Homo sapiens: one gene and its partners. The protein of the gene in region 2 purifies or fractionates together with the protein of the main gene of each other region. This does not show direct contact. Each region holds a gene or a part of one and is shown on either strand. Other genes may lie near its edges.

What was found.
Region 1: the proteins of TMEM184A (region 2) and HIBCH purify together in Homo sapiens (affinity purification with mass spectrometry; 2 studies listed by BioGRID and IntAct, with this or other methods). This does not show direct contact.
Region 3: the proteins of TMEM184A (region 2) and SLC33A1 purify together in Homo sapiens (co-immunoprecipitation; 2 studies listed by BioGRID and IntAct, with this or other methods). This does not show direct contact.
Region 4: the proteins of TMEM184A (region 2) and RTF2 purify together in Homo sapiens (affinity purification with mass spectrometry; 2 studies listed by BioGRID and IntAct, with this or other methods). This does not show direct contact.

What each region holds. Positions count from the first base shown.
Region 1 is NC_000002.12:190,246,825-190,253,850, forward strand, and holds part of HIBCH (3-hydroxyisobutyryl-CoA hydrolase, mitochondrial isoform 1 precursor), read right to left. Parts: intron 5,484-7,026; coding exon 5,338-5,483; intron 2,903-5,337; coding exon 2,816-2,902; intron 1-2,815. UniProt on the Homo sapiens protein: Hydrolyzes 3-hydroxyisobutyryl-CoA (HIBYL-CoA), a saline catabolite. Has high activity toward isobutyryl-CoA. Could be an isobutyryl-CoA dehydrogenase that functions in valine catabolism. Also hydrolyzes 3-hydroxypropanoyl-CoA.
Region 2 is NC_000007.14:1,553,201-1,560,200, forward strand, and holds the start of TMEM184A (transmembrane protein 184A), read right to left. Parts: upstream 3,006-7,000; 5' UTR 2,914-3,005; intron 2,285-2,913; coding exon 2,066-2,284; intron 1-2,065. UniProt on the Homo sapiens protein: Acts as a heparin receptor in vascular cells. May be involved in vesicle transport in exocrine cells and Sertoli cells.
Region 3 is NC_000003.12:155,823,402-155,830,427, reverse strand, and holds part of SLC33A1 (acetyl-coenzyme A transporter 1), read left to right. Parts: intron 1-524; coding exon 525-740; intron 741-2,050; coding exon 2,051-2,218; 3' UTR 2,219-7,026. UniProt on the Homo sapiens protein: Acetyl-CoA transporter that mediates active acetyl-CoA import through the endoplasmic reticulum (ER) membrane into the ER lumen where specific ER-based acetyl-CoA:lysine acetyltransferases are responsible for the acetylation of ER-based protein substrates, such as BACE1.
Region 4 is NC_000020.11:56,464,721-56,471,642, forward strand, and holds the start of RTF2 (replication termination factor 2), read left to right. Parts: upstream 1-3,906; 5' UTR 3,907-3,977; coding exon 3,978-4,046; intron 4,047-5,905; exon of another isoform or gene 5,906-6,221; intron 6,222-6,893; exon of another isoform or gene 6,894-6,922. UniProt on the Homo sapiens protein: Replication termination factor which is a component of the elongating replisome. Required for ATR pathway signaling upon DNA damage and has a positive activity during DNA replication.

The DNA of each region.
Region 1 (7,026 bases), on a different chromosome or scaffold from region 2:
CAAGTACGGGACACGTATCTTAGCTGCAGGTGTGGCTGGATGGTAGCAAAGTATAAGAGGGTTCTGCAGGCCCTTGATTGCTTTGGATATACTTTTCTTAATTGGACTAACTCTGAGTTAGTGTTGAGACAGGCCTATGATTGCAGCTGATTCACACTAAGCTCCAATTAAATAAGACTTTTTTTTTTTTTTAAACCTGTGCCATTGTAGGCTGTGTTTCTCCTATTCTGTACTTATGAATTTAGCACTTTGGGTTAAAACACAAGATTCGCACTTATCTTTATTAAATTTCACATTATTACTATTGAGCAGATCACTCTAAACTCTAAGGGTTGTTTTTTCATCCATATTCTTTTTCCTAATTTAACTTGTTTTTCTTAGTTCTAAATCAACTTGATCAAAACGCTATCAGTGGTCACCAAATCACTTGAGAAAAATGCTGAATAAGTCTAAGATGACTTCCCTACAAACTAACTCCTATACATTTAGTAGAACTCTTTGATAAGCCCCTTCAACCACCGCAAAGCATAATTCATCACATATTTACTCAATTCGACAACAGGAGACTATCAAATGCTCTGATAAAAACAAGTGAAATCCTCATGTGCTCTGTATTCATATTCTCTCCACCAAGTACTTGGTGGCCCTGCCAATCTGTACTCATGTTCTTCAGTTCTGGGTAATTTATTTGGTACTATTTCTCCAAATATTTCCTTCCCTCTATCTTCTTTACTATGAATTCCTAATGATTAGATTTTGGACCTCTTGGAATAATACCTCTAGTTTTCCATTCTCTCCCTTTTCTATTTAATTATCCTTTTCTGTTAGAGTTTTCCTCAACCACAGATTTTAATCTGTTCTGGGTTTTTTATTCCCAACTTTTGTTATCATCTTTAAAATTTTACAGGCATAACCACTACCAAGGTCAGCCAGTAGCCATCAACATCTAGGCAAGGCCCTCCAGCAGCAAAACAATTATGACTCACCGAAAGCTCAGATGATCATTAGTATTTTTAGCTAAATTATTTTATAACTATAAATTAATAAGATACGTACTTGTGCTTAGAAATGATGCTCCTGCACACTTAATAGACTACAGTATAGTGTAAAAGTTTTTATGAGCACTGGAAAACCAAAACATTCATGTGACTAGCTTTATTGCCATGGTGTGGAACCAAATTCAGATTCTCTGAGGCATGCCTATATTATTCTTTGAATTACCTTTATAACATCTGTTGTTGTTTAAGAGGTAAAATATTTTCCTCTTAAGTTAACAGTTATAGATTGGTATTTGTCTAAGTTTCCTTCTTCTTGCATTAACTGTTTCCTTCCAGTGCCTTTGTTGTTTGTTTTGGCCTAGGAATATTTGTTTTTCTATGCAAAGCACTAAAATTAGGAAGCTTTGCGTCTAATGTCAGTTGCAAGTTATGGGATTCTCAATTGTGTTACATTATAAGATGATCAGGCAAGATGTGTTATTAAGGGGTCCATGAATTTCAACGTCTATGGGTTTTTTTTTCTTCCAATGTATTGCTTAGGAGTGGGGTGGGATGCAGCGGTTCTGCAAGCCAACTAGGGAAAAGGGACAGAGGTCTTCCAACTTAGTATATCTCACCTCTCATCAGTACAGTACTTCATCAGTCTCTACTGTCAGCTAGACCTGCCTGATTTGGTTTCTCTAAGGAGTAAGTATCTACTCTTCTGCCAGGCTACTGGAAGATAGCTACTCTCAGTTGTACAAGAAGACTTGTGGAAGGGCCAGGTGCAGTGCTCATGGCTATAATCTCAGTACTTTGGGAAGCTGAGGAGGGTGGATCATTTGAGGTCACAAGTTCAAAACCAGCCTGGCCAACATGGTGAAACCCTGTCTCTACTAAAACACAAAAATTAGCTGGGCATGGTAGCACACGCCTGTAATCCCAGCTACTCGGGAGGCTGAGGCACGAGAATCGCTTGAACCTGGAAGGCAGAGGTTGCCGTGAGCCAAGATTGCGCCACCGCCCTCCAGCCTAGGTGACAGAGCGAGACTCTGCTTCAAAACAAAAAAAAAAAACAAAAAAAAAACTTATAATAAATCCTCCTGTTTTTCTGCCCCATTCTACACCCTAGTCTTCAGAGGGACCTAGTCCCTTTAGAAGGGTCTACAGCAACAATCAGCTGACTTCTTATTGGCTTTCAGAGTTCTTTGGTTTAAGTTAGCAGCACTCATCCTGCTGATTTCAAGCTTCCAAAATACTAACATCTCATGTCTGCCACTGTCTCCTCTTCCGTTCTACTTGTCTTTGTGGGTTTATGCCTTTTCTTATTCACTTATTACAATTTTGAATGGTGTTTTAGGAGGCAGCATGTATTCAATCATGTTTAACTAGAAGTTATGGAGTGTTTTTAAAGATTCTTGGCTCTTATAAGAAAATTCAAGTCAGACAACATAAGTAAGGAATTAAAAATACATGCTGCAATAAACTTTATTAAATATAAATAAATGTCAAGAGTTTGCATCTCCACAAATAGTGTTAACATTGAACACCGTTTACAGAAATGCCAAAACCCTTGCAAAGAATGATCACAAGGCTATGCACTGAAGTTAACCAGCAGTGGGAAGACAGCTATGCAGCTGCACAGGAAAGAAGTCATCTTATTAGCTGGCTATACTAACAACTGTGAAGCACTGATTCTTCTGCCACGCTTTAAAGTAAATAAATCCTTAGTACATTTATTTATATTTACAAACTATAATATTCACCAACTGCCAGTTTTTTAATCACTTCCCCTCCCCATGAATTAAAACCTGAGGTTAGAATATTAACAAGATTACCTCTGTATGGTAATTTTCTAAGACAGATGCAATATTTTCTTTTGAAGGAGATTTCAAGGCTAACAAATCTTCCTCTAACATGGCCAACTAAAGGGGAGGCAGAAAAAAAGGAAAGATCTTAGATCCAATAGAAACATAGAAAGCTTTATAAAAATCTCATCTTCTTTTTTAGAATTCTTGACTTTAAATTATGAAGCTGTCTCTTCAGGTGAATCACTGAAAGAAATTTTGACTTAAGTTGAATGAACAGGTATTCCCACACAGCAAATGTAGCCTTCAAAGGAATGGATAAAGATGGAAGAAATTAAGAAGGAGAAATAGAGACTTTTGTTTCTCAGCCTATTGAGTACTTGGAACCAAAGACCTACATATAAATTTTATTTTATTTTTAATTAATTTTAACCAAAATTGCCACAAATTATTAGTGGCTACCACAGACAATGCACAACACTATAATATAGCTTCACTTATTTATCCATCTAATCCCTCACTTAATCTACCCTACACTGAGCCAAACAGGACTTTTTACTGTTCCCAGAGCATAGCTAATGCTTTCTTGCCCCTGTGATTTCATTAAATGTTTCCTTTACCTGACAATACCTTTTCCTGATAATACTCACCTTAAGGCCGGCTGTACTGCAACCTTCATAAAAAAGCTTCTAGTCCTTTCTTACAGGTAAGCTCTTCCTCCTTTCAATTCTTTGAGTATTTTCTTTGTATTGTTTTTACACTTACCATACTTTACCTCTGCCAGATGAGAGAGATGGTTATTTATCTTTTGTACCCACTTCTAATCGCATCCCCAAAGTATATTCCTCTTTTTCATATCCTCTACAGCCCTGAGAATGTCTGTCTACTCATTGCAGATACTAGCATTGAACACATTGACAAAGAAAGGGGTTATGCATCAGCTCTCTCGTATCCTAAATTCCACTGTAATCAAGGGTGTCCCTTCCAGACAGGATAATCACATGCCCATGTTTCCTTCCTGTTATAGCTCAAGGGAAGCATGAGACTACTCAATGTGACTGAGGATGCCCACAACACAGAGAAAGATCTGAATCTTTGGCCAAACATGATAGAAAGGCCTTCATAACAGTTTACAGAGACAATCTTCAATTTTGTATGCTTCATACATTTTACAGAATCTGTAACAGTGTGAGAAACAAGACCAAAGCTCATCAACATAAAAATTTCCACAGCCAATTTATAAAGTTTATGAAGAGAATTCTATTAGTGACCAAACAGTACATTTTTATGCTATCCAGCTGTTTTACTTCAATGGCCAAAGAGGACGTGTGAGAATAAATCATCATCATTTGTAAAAAGTCCTTGGGGGACTCACATGATAGTCTAACTGTCAGTATAATCTCTGGCATCCTTACCCAAAACAGAAGAATGTTACAGATATGAGGATAAAAAGGGCCATCCTTTGTAACATACAAGAGACTCTCAATGAAAAATCCGGCAACCTCTAAAAATATAAAACTGCATTAAAATTATTAATAATAGTTAAATTTTGAGTGTTTACTATTTGTCAGTTACTGGGCTAAGCATGTAACATAAATTTTCTAATTTAATTTTTATAGCTTTCCTTGCCGTATCCTAAAACACCCTTCCCTTAAGATCTGATCAGCTATTCATCTGATGACCATGTGCTTCCTTGAAAGCTGACTTTACCCCACAGATTGAAGGACAGAGTGTGCATTACCTAGGATAGGCCAGTTGGTATATTCTACCTACTCATACGGTTCAGGAATAAGATAAGCCAGTCCAGTCAGAGTGAACCAAACCAGGTGAAGCAAAATACATCCTAAGTCTCTTGCTGGGAATTCTGAGGCAAAACTACCTTGAATTGGGTCTTCTGCCACATGTAACACAAGGAGTTTCAACTACTATGTAATAGTGTCATCTCCATTCTGCAGACGGGAAAATGGGGGGCAAAAGAGGCTAAGTTCCAATTAAGACTTAAACTCAAACTATCTATATATTCTTTTCCACTATGTTATCCTGTGCTGAGAAAATTGGCCACATTGTTTTTTTTTTAAAAAAAAAAAAGCAAAGATAAGTAACGTGTTCCTTGTAACAGATGTGTTTTAGAAAAGTCAAATGCAATTACTTTCAATGCGCTAGGGAAACTCATAACCAAAAGAAGCCTTCAAAATGTCCTCATAAAATAAAAGGCTATCTTTTTATATATAAATTTAGATTTGTACATATTAGACTTTCTTAAGGTAGGCATGATTTTTTTTTTAAGAGACTCTAATTGTTCACTTAAAAATACTCACTGAAGGTGCCAACCCTGAATCCAGGTATCATTATCTCCAGTTTGCATATGAGGAAACAGAATTAGAGAGCTTATGCACTTTCTCCAAGGTAACACAGCTATAAACTAATAGGTCCAGGATTCACACCACGATTTCACCAGAAGTCTGTGGCTCTCAACCACCCATTGTACCTTCCCATGCACTATTTTGTGTTGTTATTCCAACAATACAAAATGCAAACATCTGAAAAAGTACCTTTTCAGAATCTACAAAGTGTGTAGCAATTCCTGCTCTGTACACATCTCTTCCTTTTAGTCTGAATCCTGTTAATGCAAGGAAGTAACCAAGTTTTCCTTGGAGTCGTGGCAAGAAATAACCTCCACCCACATCAGGGAACAGTCCTGTAATTAAATGTAACAAAAAGAGATAATGGTGATTCAAATGAAAAAGATAAATATAACCTTTTTGCCGTAGATCACACAAACCATTTCTCTCTGGAGCTTGAATATACATTACAAACATTATTAAACTAAGTACTATACACTGCAATCAATATCACAAAAGACTTGCTATGAACTGTGCTAACTTGGGTATTTTTCAAAACCTTCATGTCTCATTTCTATAGAAGTCAGTAAAGTATTTGATGACACAATGTTTTGTATATTAGAAGTACTCAATGTTACCTAAATTTTCTTACCACTGATCTACTTTTGAAGAATCTCCAAAATAGGTAAAAATTTCAAAAAAATTTATTTCCAAATCAGCACAGGAAAAAAAAATACATAACCTATGGCCTATTATAGCAAAATTATTACCATTTAAATCATGTCCCAACCTTAGTCAATTATCTAATATTCAAGATGTTTAAATATTGATGCAATAATCACAAGTCCTACTAAATGAACAGGTTTATACCTAATAAAATCATTTGCATTTACCCTTTTCTTAACCATCAGTATTTAAAAATTATCTACGGGTAACAACTGAAAATAGCATATAAGGCTAGGCGCGGTGGCTCACACCTGTAATCTCAGCACTTTGGGAGGCCAAGACAGGCAGATCACCTGAGGTCAGGAGTTCAAGACCAGCCTGGCCAACACAGTGAAACCCCGTCTCTACTAAAATTCCAAAAATCAGCCGGGCATGGTGGCGCATGCCTGTAATCCCAGCTACTGGTGAGGCTGAGGCAGGAGAATCGCTTGAACCCGAGAGGCAGAGGTTGCAGTGAGCTAATGCCACTGCACTGCAGCCTGGGCAACAGAGCAAGACTCCATCTCAAGTAAAAATAATAATAATAATAAAATAAAGAAAATAGCATACATACAAGTAATTACCAGCACACTCCTTTGGGTGTTTAAGATCTTAAACAACTGTGACCCTCTAGTTTTATAATTTATGTATCTGTTCTAAAGTTTCCTTTAATTATGTTGGGATAAAAATGCAAGCACTAAAATTCTCTCCAGTTCTACTTTACAAAAAAGTTCTAGACTTAAAAGAAAAAGCATCATGCTCCTGTAAACAGAAATATCTCTTAGTATCTCAAACTAGCTAGGTCTCAAGTTAAACTCATAACCTCCCCGCGCCAGTCCCACAATCTTCCTCCAGCATCACCTACCTCAATAAAGGGTGCACGTATACAGCCTTGACACCTTCTCGCACCATCCCCTTAATCCCCATCAGTGACCACATCTTATTGATTTTCCCTCTGAACTGTTCTCCACACAATAGCCAAAGTGATCTTTTAAAAACACAAATCCTTACCAGAGTCTTGCATCCACTGCTTAAAACCCTCCCATGGCTGCCTATTTCTCCTGGATTAAAACAAACACCTTTATCAAAGTCTTCAAGGCCCCTTACCACTTTTTCCACTACATCCCTTACTACTCACTCCCAATACTCCAGCCACTCTGGTCTTCTTTCAGTTCCCTAACATTCTACACTCAT
Region 2 (7,000 bases):
GGGGTGCAGTGGCGCAATCTCAACTCACTGCAACCTCCGCCTCCCGGGTTCAAGTGATTCTCCTGCCTCAGCCTCCTGAGTAGCTGGGATTATAGGCGCGCACCACCATGCCCGGCTAATTTTTGTATTTTTAGTAGAGACAGAGTTTCCCCATGTTGGCCAGGCTGGTCTCAAACTCTTGACCTCGGGTGATCCACCCGCCTTGGCCTCCCACAATGCTGGGATTACAGGTGTGAGACACCACGCCTGACCGATTTTCCATGTTTTCTGTGAGGATACAACTCAACTACAGGGTCTTTGAGACAGGGTCAGCCGAGCCTGGGAGCTGGGCGCACAGGGGCTCCTGGGGAAGGCCTTCTGGAGGAGGTGCATGCGTGGCGGTGGGCGAGCAGAGGCTACGTGCACCTGGCCGCTTGGGGTGCAGCTCAGGGAGTTGGGGGAGGTTGGAGGCAGGAACAGACTCTTATCAGTCACACGCTCCCCGATGGTCCCTGGGAGGGACGGCATGACCAGCCATCAGGAGACCTCTCCCGGGGCTGGCGCTGCCTGGCTGGGTGACCTTGACAAGCCACTGTCCTCTCCGGCCTCGGTCCTCCCATGTATAAAGTGAGGGGGATCCAGCCACTCTGTGTCCTGCCTGGGACTCCTCACTCAAGGGTGACTCTGGCGGTGGGCTCAGGGGTGGGACAGGGCCTGAACTCCAGCCCAAGGGGTCTCCATGAGCCCTGTCTTGACTGCGAGGCCCCATGAAGCTAAAGCCACACTACAGCCGCGCACACACAGCCGGTTCCCAGGATTACAGCGGAAAGACGGCCTCCTCCGGGAAGCCCTCTCTGATGGCCTTACAGGAAGGGCCTGCCTCGGCACTGCCTCCGCGGCTCTGCACACTCCAGGCCACACTCATACACGTCTACCGTGGGTTCTGGTTATCTGTTCACAGCTCACTGCAACCTTGAACTGGGCTCAAGCGATCCTCCCATCTCAGCCTCCCAAGTAGCTGGGACTAACAGTGCAGGCCCCCATGCCCGGCTAATAAGCAGTTAATAAACTGTCACTGAGATGCTCCCTCGGAGACTTGTGGCCACCGGTGTCCCTGCCTGCCAGTCTCCTGATGGCCCCCTGCCCCAGCTCACCTACAGATCCATTCCCTACACCAGTGCCCCGTGCACCCGGGAAGCAGCTCTGCCCTCAGCCCAGCCCTCCACAGCCTTCCTGGGCTCCCAGCACCCCCTGAAAGCCACCTCACCGCACTGGGGTCAAGGGCTCTGGACAAATCCCTGCAGCCGTGTGGCCCTCGCGGGCCTACACACGCACTCCCACCCCACCCCTGCGCACACCGCCCTGGCCTCTCTGTGTATCTGAGTCTCTCAGGAGGGTCCTGTCCCTGACTCCCTGCCCTCTCTGCCCAGCCCCTGCCCTCGGGCACCACTTCCTCCTTGCCCCTGCCTGGCCCTTCCTTGCCACAGCGCCTGGCCGCTTCTCTACCTGGGGGCTGTTCTGTTCCCACCTGGGGACTGCTCCGGGTCGGGGGCTGTGTGTGGCTTCGGGCTTGGGGAAGTTGCTTCTCGCCCATCTCCTGCACAGGAGTCCCGGTCCCTCTAACAAGCTGTGACCTTTGCTCCCCAGCTCCCTACAGAGCAAAGTCCAACCCCCTGCCAACCTCCCACCAGCCTTCTCCAGGGTGTCACGCCTCTGGAAGGAGAAGGCCCCTTCCCCTTTCCAGCTATGTGAGCCTGGGAAAGACCTCTGGTCTCTCTGAGACTCAGTCTTCTTGTCTGTGAAATGGGACCACACTGCAGACCTCAGTGAGCCGAGTGACGAGCCTGTGAAATAGCCAGGGGTGCCCGGTGGGCGCTCTGCCCTCAGCCTGGCAGAGATCTCCCCATTTTCAGGCCCAGCTCCCACATGCCACATCCTGGGGAAGCTCATCCCCTCCCCCGTGCCCTGGCCGATCCCACTTCTGACAGCGTCTATAGCAGCGGCACCCAGGGGGACCGGGCTGAGCCACGGCCACGTCCTGTGGAGACCAAGGTCCTGAAGGAGGCTCGGGGGCGGAAGGGCTTACCTGGTGGCAGGTGAGCACCAGGGCAGTCCACACGAAGATCCCCGAGACGCCTCGGGCCAGTGCGGAGGTGAGGAAGAGCCAGGGGGCCCCCTGGGAGCTGTTCCCCATGTGGTCCATCTGCGGCCCAGCTGGCACAGCCGGTGGGGGGCTGGGCTGCGGCCAGTTCGCTGACACCAGGGGGACGCCGGCTGTCTCCAGGATCCCTGAGACATTACTCATCTGCAGAGGGAGGGAGGACACACACCGGGAGGAGTGAGGGCAAAGGTACTGGCTCCCGGCAGCAGGAAGCAGCGGGGGAGGGAGGAGACAGTGAGACGGGAGCTGAGGCTGAGCCACCCACCAGGCCGCACCCCCCACACGGACACCAGCGCCAGGCCCGGCTCCCTCCCTGCTCCGAGCTCAGCCATCGAAGCTCACCCATCAACCACCTGCGACCTGAGGGTCCCACCTCAATTCCCCCTTGTAAAACCAGCTTCCAACTCCGAGTCTCAGGCTTGCAGGGAGCCTGCTTCTTAGGGGACAAAGACCGTCTTCCAGTGGGGCAGAAGAGGGGGAACCCCTGCCGCCCTGCCTGCCCGGGAGGGCTGGGGAGCGGGCGCAGACCAGCACTGCCTGCCCCGGCAGGAGGGGGTGTGCAGCCACCCTCATGGGAGGAGCCGGCCCTCACTGGCTCTGGGACCTGTCCACCCACCTGGGAGCCCGGCTTTGCTGGGGTTCTTGGCAGCCCTGGGTGCCTGTTCCATCTCCCACTAACCTGCTGGGGCCCTGAGTCCACCCTCTCCCACACTCGCAGCCCAGTCCAGCCTCCTCCTCTCCCTCTGGTCTGCGGTCACAGGGCCCAGCTCTACCTTTGCTGGCAGGAAGCACCTGGCCCAGTCCAGGGAGGCCTGGCCTCCAGGGAAGCCTAGCTGGTCATTCTCATGGCCACGTGGCCCCAACTGGAGGCCCCACTGTGGGTGCGGCAAGGCCAGGATCTGAAGGGCTGTGCCAGGCTGGGGCGGGGCGGCCAGTGCCTCACGTCCCCAGTGGCCCACCTGGGCCCCAGGCTGCAGGCCCGTCCCCTCCTGTCCCCTCCCACGGCTGACACCCTATCCTCCCGGTTGTTTGCTGGGTGGCAGCTGGCTCCCAGGAACCTGCTGGCCGCCTGGCGCCCTCACCTGCCTATGCCAGACGGCCAGGCAGCTGCCACCTGGTGGGGACACGTGGGAGAGGTCTGCGGCAGGCCAAGGAGGGCCGGGCTGCAGGAGGAGGGGTGGAGAGCTAATGGTACAGGGTTTCTCTGGGGGGTGACAGGAGTCCTGAAATGAGGTAGAGGCGGCAGGCACACAGCACTGTGGATATACTTACCGCCACCGAATCGTTCACTTAAACCTGGGTAAATTGATGTTATGTGAATTTCATCTGAATTAAAAAAAAAATCCACGCCCCAAGAGATGAGTTGAAAACATTTGTTTTCTGGGCCGGGCGTGGTGGCTCACGCCTGTCATCCCCACACTTTGGGAGGCCAAGGTGGGTGGATCACTTGAGGTCAGGAGTTCGAGACCAGCCTGGCCAACATGGTGAAACGCCGTCTCTACGAAATACGCAAAAATTAGCTAGGTGTGGCAGCGTGCACCTGTAATTCCAGATACTCAAGAGGCTGAGACAGGAGAATCGCTTGAACTCAGAAGGCGGAGGTTGCAGTAAGCTGAGATCACACCACTGCACTCCAGCCTGGGGACAGAGGGAGACTCTGTGTCCAAAAAAAAAAAAAAAAAAAAAAGGAAATATTTCTGGTTTTTGTGGATCAAGGCAGGAGAGGGGGAGTGACAGCCCAGTCCCTGGACCCTTTGGGGTCTGGCAAGGGGTTGCGGGGCCCTGAGGGTCCCTGTCACCCCCATGCAGAGGCCCCTGTGGAGAAAAAACTCACTCACCCCGGCTCCTGGGAGAGGGATGTGGGCCCTCAGCCCACCTCTTGTCCTGTTCTGGTTACGCTTGGGCTCATGCCGCTGGGGCCACCATTACCAAGTCCCGCTCCATGCCCGCAACGGATCCACACACTCCTTGTCCTTCATATCTCCTACCCTCCCACAGCCCTGAGCAACAGGGCTCAAGGGGTTGAGGCTGGAATGACTGGAGCCACTGTTCCCCTTTTATTTTTAATTAATTTATTTTTTGAGACGGAGCCTCGCTCTGTCGCCAGGCTGGAGTACAATGGCGCGATCTCGGCTCACTGCAACCTCCGCCTCCTGGGTTCAAGTGATTCTCCTGCCTCAGCCTCCCGAGTAGCTGGGATTACAGGCGCCCACCACCACACCTAGCTAATTTTTGTATTTTTAGTAAAGACGGGGTTTCACCACGTTGGCCAGGCTGGGCTTGAACTCCTGACCTCAGGTGATCTGCCCGCCTCAGCCTCCCAAAGTGCTGGGATTACAGGTTTGAGCCACCACGTCCGGCCTGTTCCCCTTTTAGAGATGGGAACGAGAGGCGCATCAACGCGTCCAGCATCCTTGAGGGGTCCGTGAGGGGCCCGGGCTGAGGCCCATCCTTCCCTGGGACACCCTGCCTGCTTTTCCCAACTCCTCCACTGACACTGTCCCTCCAGGGAGGCTCCCAGGTGGGGAACAAGCTCAGGAAGTCGTGCCCAGCTCTCAGGCCCGCCTTGCCTAACCTCCCCATCAGCGCCCACCCGGGCCCGGGCCCAGAGCCACAGCATGCACACCCTGGCTGGGCCCTCCTGGAGCCTGCCTGCTCCCCAGGCAGGGACCTTCTGGACCAACCGACCCTGCTCCCGGGTGACTCTGTCCTGCAGCCTCAGGCGTCACCTCTGGAGAGACCATCCCCGCTGTCCCATCACCCTCCTCACTGTGTGTGTGACTCCCTGTCCACCTGTCTGTGTTTGCTGCTGGTCCTCCCTCTGCAGGAGCTGCCAGAGCCTAGAGCTGTGCCCTGTCCATGCTCGGGGCACAGGGCTTGCGGGGTGGGGGCTGTCCTGCTGAGGCGGTGACCCTGTGGGCTAAGGTCTCCCTTTGGCCAGGCAGGGGTGCTGGAAGGCGGTCCCCAACTTCCATCCAGCTGCATTCCCACTGCAGCCACAGGTACTCCTGCCGGCCTCCCACCCGGCCTGCAGAGCCCCAGGCAGTCGGCTCAGCGCGTGTGGATGTCGCCCTCTGGCTGTGTCGGGATCACCGTCACGGACAACTATGAAGTGACGATGGCTGGGGGCCCGTTTGAAGGGTGAAGACTTTGGTGCCTGGGCATGCGCAGAGCTGGAAGGGACCGGGAATCCCCTCATCCAACTCGCTCATGCTACAGGCAGGGAAACTGAGGCCCCAGCCCCTGCTTGATTTGCGTCCAGCCCCCAGCACAGGATGAAGCCTCGGGCCCCTCCCTGGGCTGACGGTGGGAATGGCTGTGCAGACAGCAGGAGGCACTGTGGCTAGATGTCAGCAGGACCGTTTTGGCTGGAGCCAGCAGAGCCAGGCTTCTGGGAGGGCTCTGGCTTCGGGCAGGCTCAGGGCTTGGGCCCCGGACACAGACTGAGGGACCTCCAAAGCTCTGTCTTCCGCCAGAGGCAGATCCTCTGTGGAAAAAGGTGGGGTTTTCTCACAGGGCCAGCTGGGCACTGGACAGGGAGGCCTGCTGATCTCCTCAGCCCACAGCTGTCCCGGCTGAGCCAGATGCGCCAGCTCGGGAACCGTGGACCAAGTGTACTGGTCTGGGGATGTCAGGAGCAGGGCCTGGTCCCCAGGGAGGGGCAGTCGGGAGGTTGACCGCTCTGCCACCTGCTCACAGGGCTCGCCGGCTGATCGAGGCCTCACCCGGTGCTGGTGTCACAGCCTCTGCGCCCGGTCACAGGAGGCGGCAGGGCCGGCTGGGCCTGATTTTTCTGGCGGGGGCGGGACACTGACCAAGCCCATTGCAGGACAGACCTGTCTGCCCAGATCCAGGCGACGGGGCCCTCTGACCATTGTTCACTGCGTCCAGGTGCCCAGAGCTGTGGGGAGGCTGAGAAGCCGCCCAGCCAGTCCCACACCCTGGCCCTGGCACAGCCACCTCCTCCTGCTCTCATGAGAAACCCGGCTGAGGGCCCATGAGCTGTTGCCTGGTTCCAGGCCGGCTGCCCTGCTAGTGCCCACCCCGACCCCCTGCCTGCCCGTCTCTCTGCAGATGCGGACAGGCATGGTGTACCCCCCTGCCTGCCTCCTTCACTGCTGGGTGGAACTCGGGGCGCCCAGGAGCCGCCTCCTCAGGGCTGGCTCATTTGATGTCCCAGGCTGAGCTGCACACTAGGGGGATGAGGTGACCGGTGGGCACCCATCTCAGACACCCGGCTTCCCAGGTCCCGCGGCCCTCCCCTGGGGGCCCTGGCCAGCAGTTCACCAAGGCAGCAGCCCCGGGTGTGAGCAGGGGGTGACAGGGATGGGGCTCCACATCCTCCCGGCTCTGCTTCTGGGATTCCCCCGGCTCCTGTCCACGGGCACGGCCTCCTGAGAGCCGCGTGGGGCGGGCAGGCAGCATGGCCTCCTGGTGACCCACATGCCCCCTCCTCACTGGGGCCGGGGAGCAGCCCCCACAGCCAGGAGGAGCAGGCCCTGGACCACATGCCACAAGCTGGGGCCTGGCTCTGGCTGTGTGAGGTGTCTGTGACCTCAGGCAGAGCCTATGCCAGCCTGGGCCTGTCTCCACCGGCAAGAGCTATGCGGCAGGTCAGGGAGGCCGGGCCAGGGCCTCAGGTTGGCCTCCCTGTCATCTGCCCTTCTAGGGACGTAGGCTGCTGCATGGGAGAGCCAGCCTGGCCAGGCCCTGGGACTCAGCTCCACTGTCTCAGCTGACCTGGCGACCTGGCAGGTCATAGGGGGGCGCTTGCCTCAGCTTCTGACTCTCGAGCAATTCTGTTCTGCCTGAGCCCATCAGCCCCAGATCCCAGGGTGGGGCCGTCCCAAGGATCTGCTC
Region 3 (7,026 bases), on a different chromosome or scaffold from region 2:
TGTATTGCTGGGATCTTTTTTTTTATTTATTTATTTTTATTTATTTATTTTTTTTGAGACTGAGTCTCCCTCTGTCGCCCAGGCTGGAGTGCAGTGGTGCGATCTCAGCTCACTGCAAGCTCCGCCTCCCGGGTTCACGCCATTCTCCTGCCTCAGCCTCCCAAGTAGCTGGGACTACAGGCGCCTGCCACCACATCCGGCTATTTTTTTTTTTTTTTTGTATTTTTCAGTAGAGACAGGGTTTCACCGTGTTAGCCAGGATGGTCTCGATCTCCTGACCTTGTGATCCGCCCGCCTTGGCCTCCCAAAGTGCTGGAATTACAGGCATGAGCCACCGCGCCCGGCCTGTATTGCTGTGATCTTAAAGCCTGGCCTATAGTAGGTGCTTGATAAGTATTTGTTGAATTGAGTTCAATAAATACCATGAAAATTAATTTCAGGTTTATGACTTTGATGTTCTTAATTTAGACTGTAGCTTTATAAGCTTTATAATCATACTAAAGATGTTTTACATTTTTCCGTAGGTTACAGTGTACAGCATGTATGTTTCTATAATGGCTTTCAATGCAAAGGTTAGTGATCCACTTATTGGAGGAACATACATGACCCTTTTAAATACCGTGTCCAATCTGGGAGGAAACTGGCCTTCTACAGTAGCTCTTTGGCTTGTAGATCCCCTCACAGTAAAAGAGTGTGTAGGAGCATCAAACCAGAATTGTCGAACACCTGATGCTGTTGAGGTAAGTATGTTTTAATTTTAGATAACATTAAGCTAATACTAAGATATTAATATCTTTGTTTTGTCTCTAGAAGTACTATATCTTTTTTAAAAATCATATCTGTCCATAGGTTCTGGTTTAGAAATCTACATATATATTTTCTTTCACATCAAGGCTGAGGGTTATAATCATTCAAATCAGCAAGACTAGTTCCCTTAAAGGCGTTTCTCAGTAAAGGAGAGGCGATCTCTCTTTCCCCCACCTTGACGATCACTGTCCTACACAGCAGGCACTATATAAATGCATAATTAATAGCTTAAGTTTTGTAGTGATAGAAAAAGGGAATGTCCATTGGCTATTCCTATAACAGTGATAACTAAACCTGTATAGTGAGTGGTTTGTTGATAAATTCTTTCAAAGTGGTATTTGTCTACTTCTAGAGTAGATGGACTGGAAATTTCTTCACATTTCCGAATGTGAAAGCTGCATCGTGAAAATAGATAATCGGGCCAGGTGCAGTGGCTCACGCCTGTATTCTTAGCACTTTGGGAGGCTAAGGCGGGTGGATTGCCTGAGCTCAGGAGTTTGACACCAGCCTGGGCAACACGGTGAAACCCCATCTCTACTAAAATACAAAAAATTAGCCGGGCGGGGTGGTGTGTGCCTGTAGTCCCAACTACTCAGGAGGCTGAGACAGGAGAATTGCTAGAACTGGGAGGCGGAGGTTGCAGTGAGCTGAGATCGCGCCCCTGTACTCCAGCCTGGGCGACAGAACAAGACTCCGTCTCTTAAAAAAAAAAAAAAAAAAAAAACATATTCGGCTGGGTATGGTGGCTCACACCCGTAATTCCAGCATTTTGAGAGGCTGAAGCAGGCAGATTGCTTGAGCCCAGGAGTTCAAGACCACCCTGGGCCACATGGTGAAGCACCATCTCTACAAAAAATGTAGAAATTAATGGGGCATGGTGGTGCACGCCTGTGGTCTTATCTACTCACAAGGCTGAGGTGGGAGGATTGCTTGAGCCCAGGAGCCAGAGACCGCAGTGAGCCATTATCACACCACTGCATTTCAGCCGGGGCCACAAGTGAGACCGTGTCTCAAAAAAGAAAATGAGTATTGTTTACAGCAAGAACTGAAAATTGTTTTTAATCCTGTTAGTAGCATTAGAGAGATTAAGATACATTAACATATTTTGTCATTGGAATTCAGTGAAATACTGAAATGTTTTAAGAAAAATATATTTTTATTCTTTATAAAGTAGAAGCATGTTAATTGCTAAATACTTTCATTTTGAAATTGTGGAGTATTTATTATAGTTTTATTTTTACAGCTTTGCAAAAAACTGGGTGGCTCATGTGTTACAGCCCTGGATGGTTATTATGTGGAGTCCATTATTTGTGTTTTCATTGGATTTGGTTGGTGGTTCTTTCTTGGTCCAAAATTTAAAAAGTTACAGGATGAAGGATCATCTTCGTGGAAATGCAAAAGGAACAATTAATATATATGCTACTGGACATTCTAGCAAGGTAATTGTAGTTTAGTTTTAATTCGGAGAGCAATGATAATCAGTGCACAGGAGTATAAAATATTATTTTAAACAGCGAAATTAATAATATAAAATGCCAAATGGTTGAAAAAATAGAAACCTTTCTGTATATTTGATCATATTTTTTTTTTGCCTTGTCAATGTATTTAAAGTTTACTTAAGGTCAGGAAATTCTAAAACAACTTTTCTGGCCTTGTTATTTGATGTATATCTTTTAAATTTACTGACCAAAGCATGTTTTAAGCTGCAATGCAGTAGTCACGGGTGGTAACCATGTAGTCAGGTATTGTTATTAGTACCTATCACTGCTGAGCTGTATTTAAAATTTTGGTACAATATATAAAATGGAGAAGAGCTTGATATTCAGGTACTAACCACAACTAGTCTGACATTGTTGGCAGTTAAAATCTTATTTTGAATTGTAAATTAGTTAAATTTTATGTGGAATTTGCTGAGAAAAGAATATAGACTACTGAAATGTCATTTTAGTTATTTTTCTTATGACCACATTGTACAAATGAATCTGTGTTAAAAAGACTATTTTAAATGTATTTCCTGCTTTTGTAAGCATTAAAGATTTATAAGAAAATTATTCAAACTATTTTTTATAAAATGAAAGTTATGATTTTTAAACTTATTGATTCCTCTTGCCCCTACCCCCTCTTTTTGGAAGATATTTTGATTCCTTATAAACTTTTACCCTAAGCTTATATATGTTTTCTGTCACAAGTGCTTCCTGGCACACAGACAGCCAATGGAGGGGATCAAATTCAGTGTTGTATGTATGTTTATGGCAACATTTTGAAAATAAAAATTAAATGTTTTTCTTCAAGTAGTTTTTTTTTAATTGCTGAGAGAAAAAAACAGTAAAGCTTTCTGATTAAGTAAAATTTAAATGGGCAGTACCATAATTTAAAAAACTAATACTTTAAAGAGAGAGACAAAGATATTTTGTGCCTTTGACAAATTAAATCTAATAGTGGAAAAATGTTTCTTAATTAAGCACTTTACTAGTGAAAAAGATCTCACAATTTATGCCAAATCAGGTACTGTATTTTCATGTATTAACACATAACCTTTTGTTTGAATACTATAGTTTTCAGTGGACAGTTGCTATTCCAAGAAAATTAAGCTTTTGAGTACTTTAGCAATTCCCAGCGTATTACATACACCCAGTGATAAGGTTCTTTGCATGTTTTGTGTTATGTATTACTCTGACTCTTTAGAGATTATATAAATCCTCCAAAAGTTAGACGAAACAAGATAGTACATTATGAGTCTTAATTTTATCATTGTGGAAAAATGTGTACTAACTCCTGATTTTGTTAATTTTATAACATAGGTTGAATTTTAGAGTGGGGTTTTTATAAGTAATGGAGGATAAAATGGGTGGGAGAAAATGGCACACAGCACCTGAAGAAAGATGGGGCAGTGACCTCTAGAACTCATGCATTGCCATTGGAAAGCCTGTGTTGGGCATCGATGTCAGATCCTGAAGAATCACCTGGAAAAAATCCCATCCTAGAGGCAAGGAGGCTACACCAAACCATACACTACAGTACTTTGTCACATGGTTGTCCATTATCATGTATTAGAGTCTAAATGATTACTTGAATAAAGAAAAAAAACCACTTAACTCTTACATATGAAATGTGTTTTGATTTTTAATTTTTGGATTAAGAAACTCAGATTGCCATAATAACCTTTTATTTCTTCCCGTGTATATTATTACAAATTATATATACTTTCAAACATAGTTTTTTTTTTTTTTAATTGAGACAGAGTCTCACTTTGTCACCCAGGCTGGAGTACAGTGGTGCAATCTCGGCTCACTGCAACCTCTGCCTCCTGGGTTCAAGTGATTCTCCTGCCCCAGTCCTCTGAGTAGCTGGGACTACAGGCGCACACCACCACACCCGGCTAATTTTTGTATTTTTAGTAGAGATGGGGTTTCACCATGTTGGCCAGGCTGGTCTTGAACTCCTGACCTCAAGTGATCCACCCGCCTCGGCCTCCCAAAGTGCTGGGATTACAGGCATGAGCCACTGCGCCCAGCCTTCAAACATAGTTTTAATGTCAGTACATCTTTAATGACTTGAAGTTTTAAAACATTTTAAGCCTTTAAGGTGAAAGCCATTTAATTAATTTGCTCTAGAAATAAGCACAAAAAATTATAGTTAATTTGAATACATGTATGTAATGCATGTCAAAATAACTTGTTAATAGCTATGTGCAACTGTGTTGCATACATTGATCACTAATGGCATTTAAAAATGATCTGCCTAAATCTGAGGATCTGTTTATTATAAATCAGTAGTACTAAAATATACCACCCTGTTTTTATGTTGTGGGTGTTTTTCTTGATTGATTGATCCTGATAAATTAAACAGTACCTTCAAGTATGGACTTTTAACTCCTCCAGTTAATGCATCATATGTTTACTGGCTAATATTAGATTGAACATTTTTCTCTCTATGTCAGTATCTCCATATGCACATTGGTTGCCGCATATATACATCTGAGTTTGAAAAGTTCTTCTGAGATTACCTAAAAGTAACACCACAGATTCCTTCCATTGTAAATACTTTATTTTATTTTATTATTATTTTTTAGAGACATGGTCTCACTTTTGCCCAAGCTGGAGTACAGTGATGCAATCATAGCTCACTGCAGCCTCAAATTCCTAGGCTCAAGGGATCTTCCTTAGGCTGGATGCTGTGGCTCACACCTGTAATCACAACACTTTAGGAGGCCAAGGCAGGAGGATCACTTGAGGTCAAGAGTTCAAGACCAACCTGGTCAATATAATAAGAACCTGTCTTTATGACTTCTTTTTTTTTTTTAATTATCCAGGCATGGTGGTACACACCAGTAGTCCCAGCTACTTGGGAAGCTTAGGCGGGAGGGTTACTTGAACCCAGGAGGTCAAGGCTTCAGTAAGCAGTGATTGTGGTACTACATTCCTGTCTGGGTGACAGAGTGAGACCCTGTCTCAACAACAAAAAAGGATCTTTCCACCTCAGCCTCTCTGGTAGCTAGGACTACAGGCACACAGCACTATGCCCAGCTAATAAAAAATAATAATTTTTTATAGAGGTGGGGTCCGCTATATTTTCCAGGCTAGTCCCAATCTCATAGCTTCAAGCAGTCGTCCAGCCTTGACCTCTCAAAATGCTGGGATTACAGGTGTAAGCCACCGTGCCCTGCCCATGATAAATATTTTAATTTTGCCTGATAAGTCATAAAAAGTTTATTCAACACCTTAAATAGATTTCTCAATTTTTTAAAAATATTAAACCTTTGAAATCGAAAGTAATTTTTGGATTTCACCCCTTTATTGCAAGGTTTTTGATGTCTGTGGGAAAAACCCCTGAATTGCTTGTGAAACTCTGGATATGTAATTTTTTTTCTTTTTCTGAACAGAGTAAAATCTTGGATGGGCCATGATCCAAAAATCATGGTTTTGAAAGTAGACCGTACTATAAGCCATAATCACAAATCTGAGGTAATAGTTGTGAAAGTGTTTAAAACATCCTGAAAACAATGTTGAAAAAAAAAATCTATGATAAAAACTATAAAATCTCTGCATATGTTATACTGTATTGAACTTGAAACTTTGAAGGAATTAGAGTAGATAAGACATTAATGGTAGAAGAGAAACCACAGGGGTGAATTATATCCTACAAAAGAGAAATCTTCATGATTTAACCTTTTTTTTCTGAGTGACTTTTATTTTGCCTTATTAACAGAAACCTGAGAAAGTATGTTGCTTTGTATTAAATGGTTGAGACCATTATTTGATATAAAAGCTGAAAATTTAATTTTTGTATTTTGGAGAATTCTGTGGTTCCAAGTAATTGAAAGAATGACTAAAGCTGTATGTCATAGACCCTGCTAAAATGAAATAACTTGTTGGGAACATTCCATGCAGATTTCCAAAATGTATTTTACCTTATTATTAGAGAAAGAAAATAAACTTTTAAAATAATCTGATAACTAGCATTCATATATTTAATAAGTATTTTGGTTACAGAAGGGAAGGTGATACTGTACATTGTAACTGCTGAGACTTTTTTTTAACCAATGTCTTTGGTAGATAGCGAGGCACAATTATTTTCTCTTAGGGAGGATTTTGAATACCTATTGCAGGCTGGGCATGGTGGCTCACGCCTGTAATCCCAACCCTTTGGGAGGCCGAGGTGGGTGGATCACTTGAGGTCAGGAGTTTGAGACCAGCCTGGCCAACATGGTGAAACGCCGTCTCTACTAAAAATACAAAAATTAGCCAGGCATAGGGTGGCACACGACTGTAATCCCAGCTACTAGGGAGGCTGAGGCAGGAGAATTGCTTGAGCCCGGGAGGCGGAGCTTGCAGTGAGTTGAGATTGCGCCACTACACTTCAGCCTGGGCGACAGAGCGAGACTCCGTTTCAAAAACAAACAAACAAAAACAAAACAAAAACACCTACTGCAGACCATGTTCTTTTTACTTTATTTTATTTTATTATTTTTTTGAGATGGAGTCTGGCTCTGTTGCCCAAGCTGCTCACTGCAACCTCCGCCTCCCGGGTTCAAGCGATTCTCCTGCCTCAGCCTTCCAAGTAGCTGGGACTACAGATGTGCACTACTACGCCCAGCTTATTTTTGTATTTTTGGTCGAGATGGGGTTTTGCCATGTTGGCCAGGCTGATCTCAAACTCCTGACCTTAGGTGATCTTCCCGCCTTGGCCTCCTAAAGTGCTGGGATTACAGGCGTGAGC
Region 4 (6,922 bases), on a different chromosome or scaffold from region 2:
TTCTTGCAGTTCTGGAGGCTGGGAACTCCAAGGTCAAGGGGCCTGCATCTGGCAAGGGCTTTTGTGCTGCATCATCCCAAGGTGGAAGGTGGAAGGACAAGAGAGCAAGAGAGGGCCGAACTCAATGTTATAACAAGTCCACTGTCTCGATCACTAACTCACTCCCAAGATAACAACATGAATCCAGTCATGAGAGCAGAGCCCTCATGACCTAATCACCTCTTATTAGGCCCCAGCTCCCAACACTGTTGCATTGGGATTAGATTTCCAACACATGAAATTTGGGGGACACACTCAAACCATAGCAGACAGTTTAAAAAATGTTTAATGCCAACTCTTAAAATGAGTTATGGTAAGCTGCAGCTACGGAAGAGCATATGAGCAGAGCTACCAGGAAATCAAACCTGCCATGGCTCAGAAGTCTGAAATGGGCCGGGGGCAGTGGCTCACGCCTGAAATCCCAGCACTTTGGGAGGCCAAGGCGGGTGGATCACAAGGTCAGGAGTTCGAGACCAGCCTGGCCAACATGGTGAAACGCCGTCTCTACTAAAAATACAAAAAATTACCTGGGCGTGGTGGTGTGCGCCTGTAATCCCACCACTTTGGGAGGCCAAGGAGGGCGGACCATGAGGTGAGGAGTTCGAGACCAGCCTGACCAACATGGTGAAACCCCATCTCTATTAAAAATACAAAAACTTAGCCGGGCATGGTGGCATGTGCCTGTAATTGCAGCTACTCAGGAGGCTGAGGCAGGAGAATCGCTTGAACATGGGAGATGGAGGTTGCAGTGAGCCCAGATTGCACCACTGCACTCTAGCCTGGGCAACAGGGTGAGGCTCCATCTCAAAAATAAAAAAATTATATAAAAAAAAGAAGTCTGAAATATTTGAGACCTACTGTAAGGACTTACTATAACAGCATTTAAAGTACTGGTTCTTAGCCTGAGGTTCAGAAGGCTGTGAGTAAAATACAAACATGTATACGCTATGTGAAATGTCGTTATGTGCTAATCAATACTTTTCTGGAGATTTAGTTCAAAGTTTTCATCAAATTCTCAAACAGGTCCAATGACTCCCAAAAGGTTAAGAAATACTGGTTTTACTAGAGGGTAATGATTTTCCTTTTTATCATTTCATTCCTCTGCTTCCCCAAAAATCCATGGCTTGGCTAGGACAAAGTTGTCTCCGAAGATGCTTGTAAGGGAATAACCTTTATTAGTTCATTCAACAAGGCAGTGGAAGAAGAAGCAGACAATGATGACATCTGCTTCCCAGTAGAGCCGGGAGAATAAAACGGCTCAAGTCCAATAAAGCGCTGAACACAGCACCTGACATGGCAGCCAGCTCTCAACACATATTTGCTACCAATGATAATAAACCTCACAAAAGTTCTAGCTGCGTATAGTCTGAGGCACAGAGTAGCCTAGAGACCAATATTCTAAAAGAGGAAACCAATGAGGAAGAGAAAAAAGTCCAGCTGCCTGAGCTAGAACACCAGCACAGCCGGTACTGCTGGGTTTTATCAGCAGCATTTGGGGAAGCAGTTAAGTCAGACGGGCCTCATCGGAGACAGCCCCTCATCTTATACTCCTTTTACTCAGCAGCTATGAGACTCTGAACAAAGACAACTTGCACATCTGAGTCTTGGGGTTTTCATTTGTAAAACAAGAGGGATTATACCTTCTAACTCTTAAGGTTATTGTGAGCCCAAAGTGAAAAAATGCCTACAAATCTCTCAGTGCACGCATGGTCATGGCTTAATAAAGAGCCGCTATTTTTGTTTTTTCTTCCCCAAATGAGAAAAGAACACTGGTTTGAGTCTTTCTAAAGATGCTGGTGTTTCTGCTCTTCTGTATTTGACTTTCTTTCCTTTGCTGTGAGAAAGAACTAATCCTAGCACTCATTCCCGGGTCTCTCACTGCCTATGTGACCTTGAAGGAGTCATTTGATCTTTCCACGCTTCTGTTTCCTCACCAGTAAATGGAATTCTAATAGTACTAACCAGTTTTAGTATCTGCCAAAACTAGGCTTTTCACCCCTTTCTCAATGAATCTGTACTTTCTTTTGGTTTACTGAGGAAATGTACTCATATATTGAGTGTGCCAAAGACTCTTCTAGGCACTGATGATACAATGTGGAATAAAAGTCCTGGCCGGGCTTGGTGGCTCACGGCTGTAATCCCAGCACTTTGGGAGGCCGAGGCAGGTGGATCACCTGAGATCAGGAGTTTGAGACCAGCCTGGCCATCACGGTGAAGCCCCGTCTCTACTAAAAATACAAAAATTAGCCCAGCATGGTGGCGGGCGCCTGTAATCTCAGCGACTGGGGAGGCTGAAGCAGGAGAATCGCTTTGATCCTGGGAGGTTGAGGTTGCAGTGAGCCGAGATCACATCACTGCACTCCAGTCTGGGCAACAGATCGAGACTCTGTCTAAAACAAAACAAAACAAAATGAAGTCCCTACCCTCATAGAGCTTACAGTTATTGTGGTTAGCATAGAAATAAATCATAAATCAATCAGAGACCAACTAATTAAAGGGATTATTTTTTAAAATTCTCATTAATCACAGTAACAAGTACCCCAAGCTTACATATAGCCCTTGAAGTTTCCACATCCACGTATTTTCTGGGCAACTCTTCCCAAGTAAAAAATATTTTCAGCGTTTTTATGTTTCACGTAGGTCAATAGGGTAATATCCAATCATAAAGATCTGCCTTCTTGGCAATGGAGAAATTTTCCCATCATATATATGTACAAATACATACATACATACATACATACATATTAATGACAGAGTCTTGCTCTGTTGCCTAGGCTGGAGTGCAGTGGCATAATCATAAGCTCACTGCAACCTTGAATTCCTGGGCTCAGGCAATCCTTCCTACCCCCTCAGCCTCCGGAGCCGCTAGGACTACAAAAGCTTACCACAACGCCTGGCTAATTTTTCTTTTTCTTTCAAGATGGTGTCTCACCATGTTGTCCAGGCTGACCTGGAACTCCTGGGCTCAGGTGCTCCTCCCGTCTCGGCCTCCCAAAGTGCTGGGATTATAGGCACTTTCCCATAATATTTATAATAATTAAAGGAACAAACAGAGAGATAGACAATCGCCTAAGAGCAGACAGACAATCATGAATTTTTAGCAAGGGATTTGTGTTCTTATAGATAAAATACAGCCTGACTCTTGGAACGGGCATGGCAACATCAGTGTATATTTTATAAGAACTATTATATCGTCTATTAATGATACTTGATTGTTAATAAAATTTTTTTAGCCTGGGCTTCAGGAAACTGTGAATGAAATACACACACGCACAAACTGTATGCAAAATTTCACACACATGCCATCTACAATATGCATGGCAACACCAGAAAGTTCCAGGCCTTAAGGGAGGGTCTTACTTCCTAGAATCTGTTGTAACATCACTTCACAAGATTTGTTGTGAGTGCTTGAGTCACAGTTGGCGCTCAAGAAAGATGCGTTCTCCTTTTAAACACAAAAATGTCCATTGATACAGCAGATTCCGTTCATAGGCATCCTTAATCGCAGAAACAGGAGGGCGGCCCTTTTCCTCAAGGCGCTCTCAGTCCAGGGATGTGCCCGCTCCGCAGCCACACAAGCTGGCGTGGGATAGGGTCAAAGAGCGGTGGATGCGCACGGGCCGCCCACGCCCTCGCTGCCCTCCCGGAGCGTGGGCGAGTGATTCCGATTGTGCAGCAGAAACCCAGGGTCTCACGGGAACGAGGAAACCCGCCCACGCCCAGCCTCCAAGCGACGCTCTCCATGACAACCGGCACTTGGTAACGGCCTCGCCCTGCCCCGCTACGCCGCGCCTAGCGTGCCGCCCCGCCCCGCCCCGCTACGCCACGACCAGCGTGCTGCGTCACGGCGGTGCGCCGGAAGTGGCTGCGGATTTCGCCGGAAATCCCGGAAGTGACAGCTTTGGGGGTTTGCTGCTGGCTCTGACTCCCGTCCTGCGATGGGTTGCGACGGGGGAACAATCCCCAAGAGGCATGAACTGGTGAAGGGGCCGAAGAAGGTTGAGAAGGTCAGTGATGTGGGCCGGCTCTTGGCGACCGGGGGTGGTGGGAATTTGACGACCCCAGAAAACGAGAGGAAGTAAGAAGGGGGAGCCAGCGGAGTTCCAGACCTGGCTGCGGTCTTTTATTCCATTCAGAGGACTCAAAATTAACAACAGTATTAAGAGTGGACATTCAATGGGTGCTGACTATTGCCATTCACTGGACAGTAATCTTAACAGGGGGTATCTCATGTAATTATCACAATAGCCCTATAGCTACATACTGTTGTCCTCATTTTCAGACATGGAAGTTGAGGCTCAAAAGGAGAAATTTGCAAAGCTAGTAAATGGCAGAGCCAGGATTTGAACCCTACCTGCGACTAGTAGCAATAATACAAATACCTAGTGTATACTGAGTTTTGTATACACTAACTTCATTTGCTCAGAGAAGCCTTCCCAAACTGTTCCCTTACCACATCCTTTTATAAACTGTCTTAGCCTGCACACGGCTGTACGTGGTTGATTTGTATCAAGTCTTCCCCGCTAGACGGTAAGTTCCTGATAGCAGAGGCTGTACCCTTTTTTTCTCTGCAACTAGCATGGTTCCTGGCACACTAAATATTTCGAATAAACAAATGAGTGAATAATCCCTGATCTCACAAGTAATCGAGGAAATTATAATAATTTCTTTGCTACTGACGGGGACATTGAGTCCAGGGATATTAAGGTGACTAAGATCACACAGCTGGTAGGTAGTGAAGCCAGGATTCCCATCCACTTATTTGGGATTTCAAAGTTAGCACAAGTAATTACTTTTTAATGATAAAATATTTGTAAAGCACCTAGTAGAGACTTCTTTACAAAAATATTTGTAAAGCACACGTGGAGACTTCATGTATTCTGATTCAGGAGCTGGAGAGCTTGTTTAAAAGGTAAACCCCTTAAGTCACTATTGTATTTGAAGCATTCCAGTGGCTTCCCATCACATTAAGAATAAAATCTCGTCAGACCCTTGAGCAGACCTTGCCTATGTTTCTGACCTCATCTTCTGCCCCTCTCCACCTCTTTCATACTGTTCTAGCTAAACAGGCCTCTTGTTCTTCAACCTGGAGTGTGAGTTCATCAATCTGAAATACTCTTCACTGAGATTGTCACATGATGAGTTTCTTTACTTCATTCAGTTTTTTACTCAAATGTCATCTGTCCACTGTAACTGAAATGTGCCTCACTTCCAATATTCTCTCTTCTCTTCTTAACAGTGCCTACCACTGTGTTGTTTATTGTCTCTTTCCCACGTAGACAGGAACCTTGTGTGTCTTACCTCTGTAACCCCTACCATGTGTCAGCCACATAATAGACACCTAATAAGTATGTGTGAATATGGGAATGAATGAATACCCAAGAGGATGAAGTGTACCCTCTGATCATACGTACATGTAAACAGGCGAATGCTGGATAATTAGCATTCATGAGTGGTTTTTTGGCTTTCACCAAAAAAGTGTTTAGCTCAGTTTTGTTTTCTTGTGCCCAGGGCTGAAAAGGAGTAGCTTAATGAAAGGCTTGACAAGAAACAGGTGTCGGAAGAGGGTAGAAAAGAAGGAAGAGCGATTCAAAAAAGCCAGAATGCCTAGGCAGGATGGATTTTTATTATAACTATTCACACAACAAATGCTTAATAAGTGGTTACCATATATACATTGTTGTAGGCCCCAGGGATATAGCAGTGAACAAGGCAGAGTCTAGCCCTGGTGGAGCTTACATTTCGGATCAATATTGTGAAATCTGCCCTGGTTCCTAACGCAGAGCACCTAAATTCCTTGTAATTTCCTGGGTGACGGGATCATCTTTTGTTCTAATAAGGCAATTATTGGTGGGCTCCTGGATGGGGCCTGGTCACCAGAAACACCAAGCCAAGATTAGAAGCCTGGAACTTTCAGCCCCACCTCACCCCCATCCTTCAGGGAGGAGAAGAGGAATTGGACATGGAGTTAATAATCCATCATGCCTACGTGGTGGGGTCTCCATAAAGATCCCTGAAGTTGAGGGTTTGGAGATTTTCTGGGTTGCCGACAACATCCACATGCCAGGAGAGTTACCCCAACTCCATGAGGACAGCCCTGCACTTGGGACCCTTCCAGATTACTTCTTTATCTGGCTATTTATTTGTATCCTTTAAAATGTATTTGTAATAAATCAGCAATGGTAACTAAACTCTTTCCCCATATCTGTGAGACACTAGCAAATCATCAAACTGGGCGGGGGGATCGTGGTAGCCTTTGATTTATAGACAGTCAGAAGTGCAGGTGACAACTTGAACTTGTGATTGGCATCTAAAGTCGGGGTAGGGACAGTATTATGGGACTGAGCCCTTAACCTTTGGGATCTGAGGCCATATCCAAATAGGTGGTATCAGAATTGAGTTTAATTGTAAGACACCTGGCTGCTATCAGAGAATTGGTTGGTGTGGGGAAAATCCCATACATTTTGTCCGAAGTGTTCTGGAAGTATTGAGTGTTGTGAGTGAAAGTATAGAAAAAACACTTGTCTGGCCAGGCGCGGTGGCTCACGCCTGTAATCCCAGCACTTTGGGAGGCTGAAGCAGGCGGATCATGAGGTCAGGAGATCGAGACCATCCTGGCTAACACAGTGAAACCCTGTCTCCACTAAAAATACAAAAAAGTTGCCGGGCATGGTGGCAGGTGCCTGTAGTCCCAGCTACTCGGGAGGCTGAGGCAGGAGAATGGCGTGAACCCAGGAGGCAGAGCTTGCAGTGAGCCAAGATAGCGCCACTGCACTCCAGCCTGGGCGACAGAGCAAGACTCCGTCTCAAAAAAAAACAAAACAAAACAAAACCACTTGTACTTGTCTTTCCAGTACAGATATGTAAAAACTTAAAAGAAGAA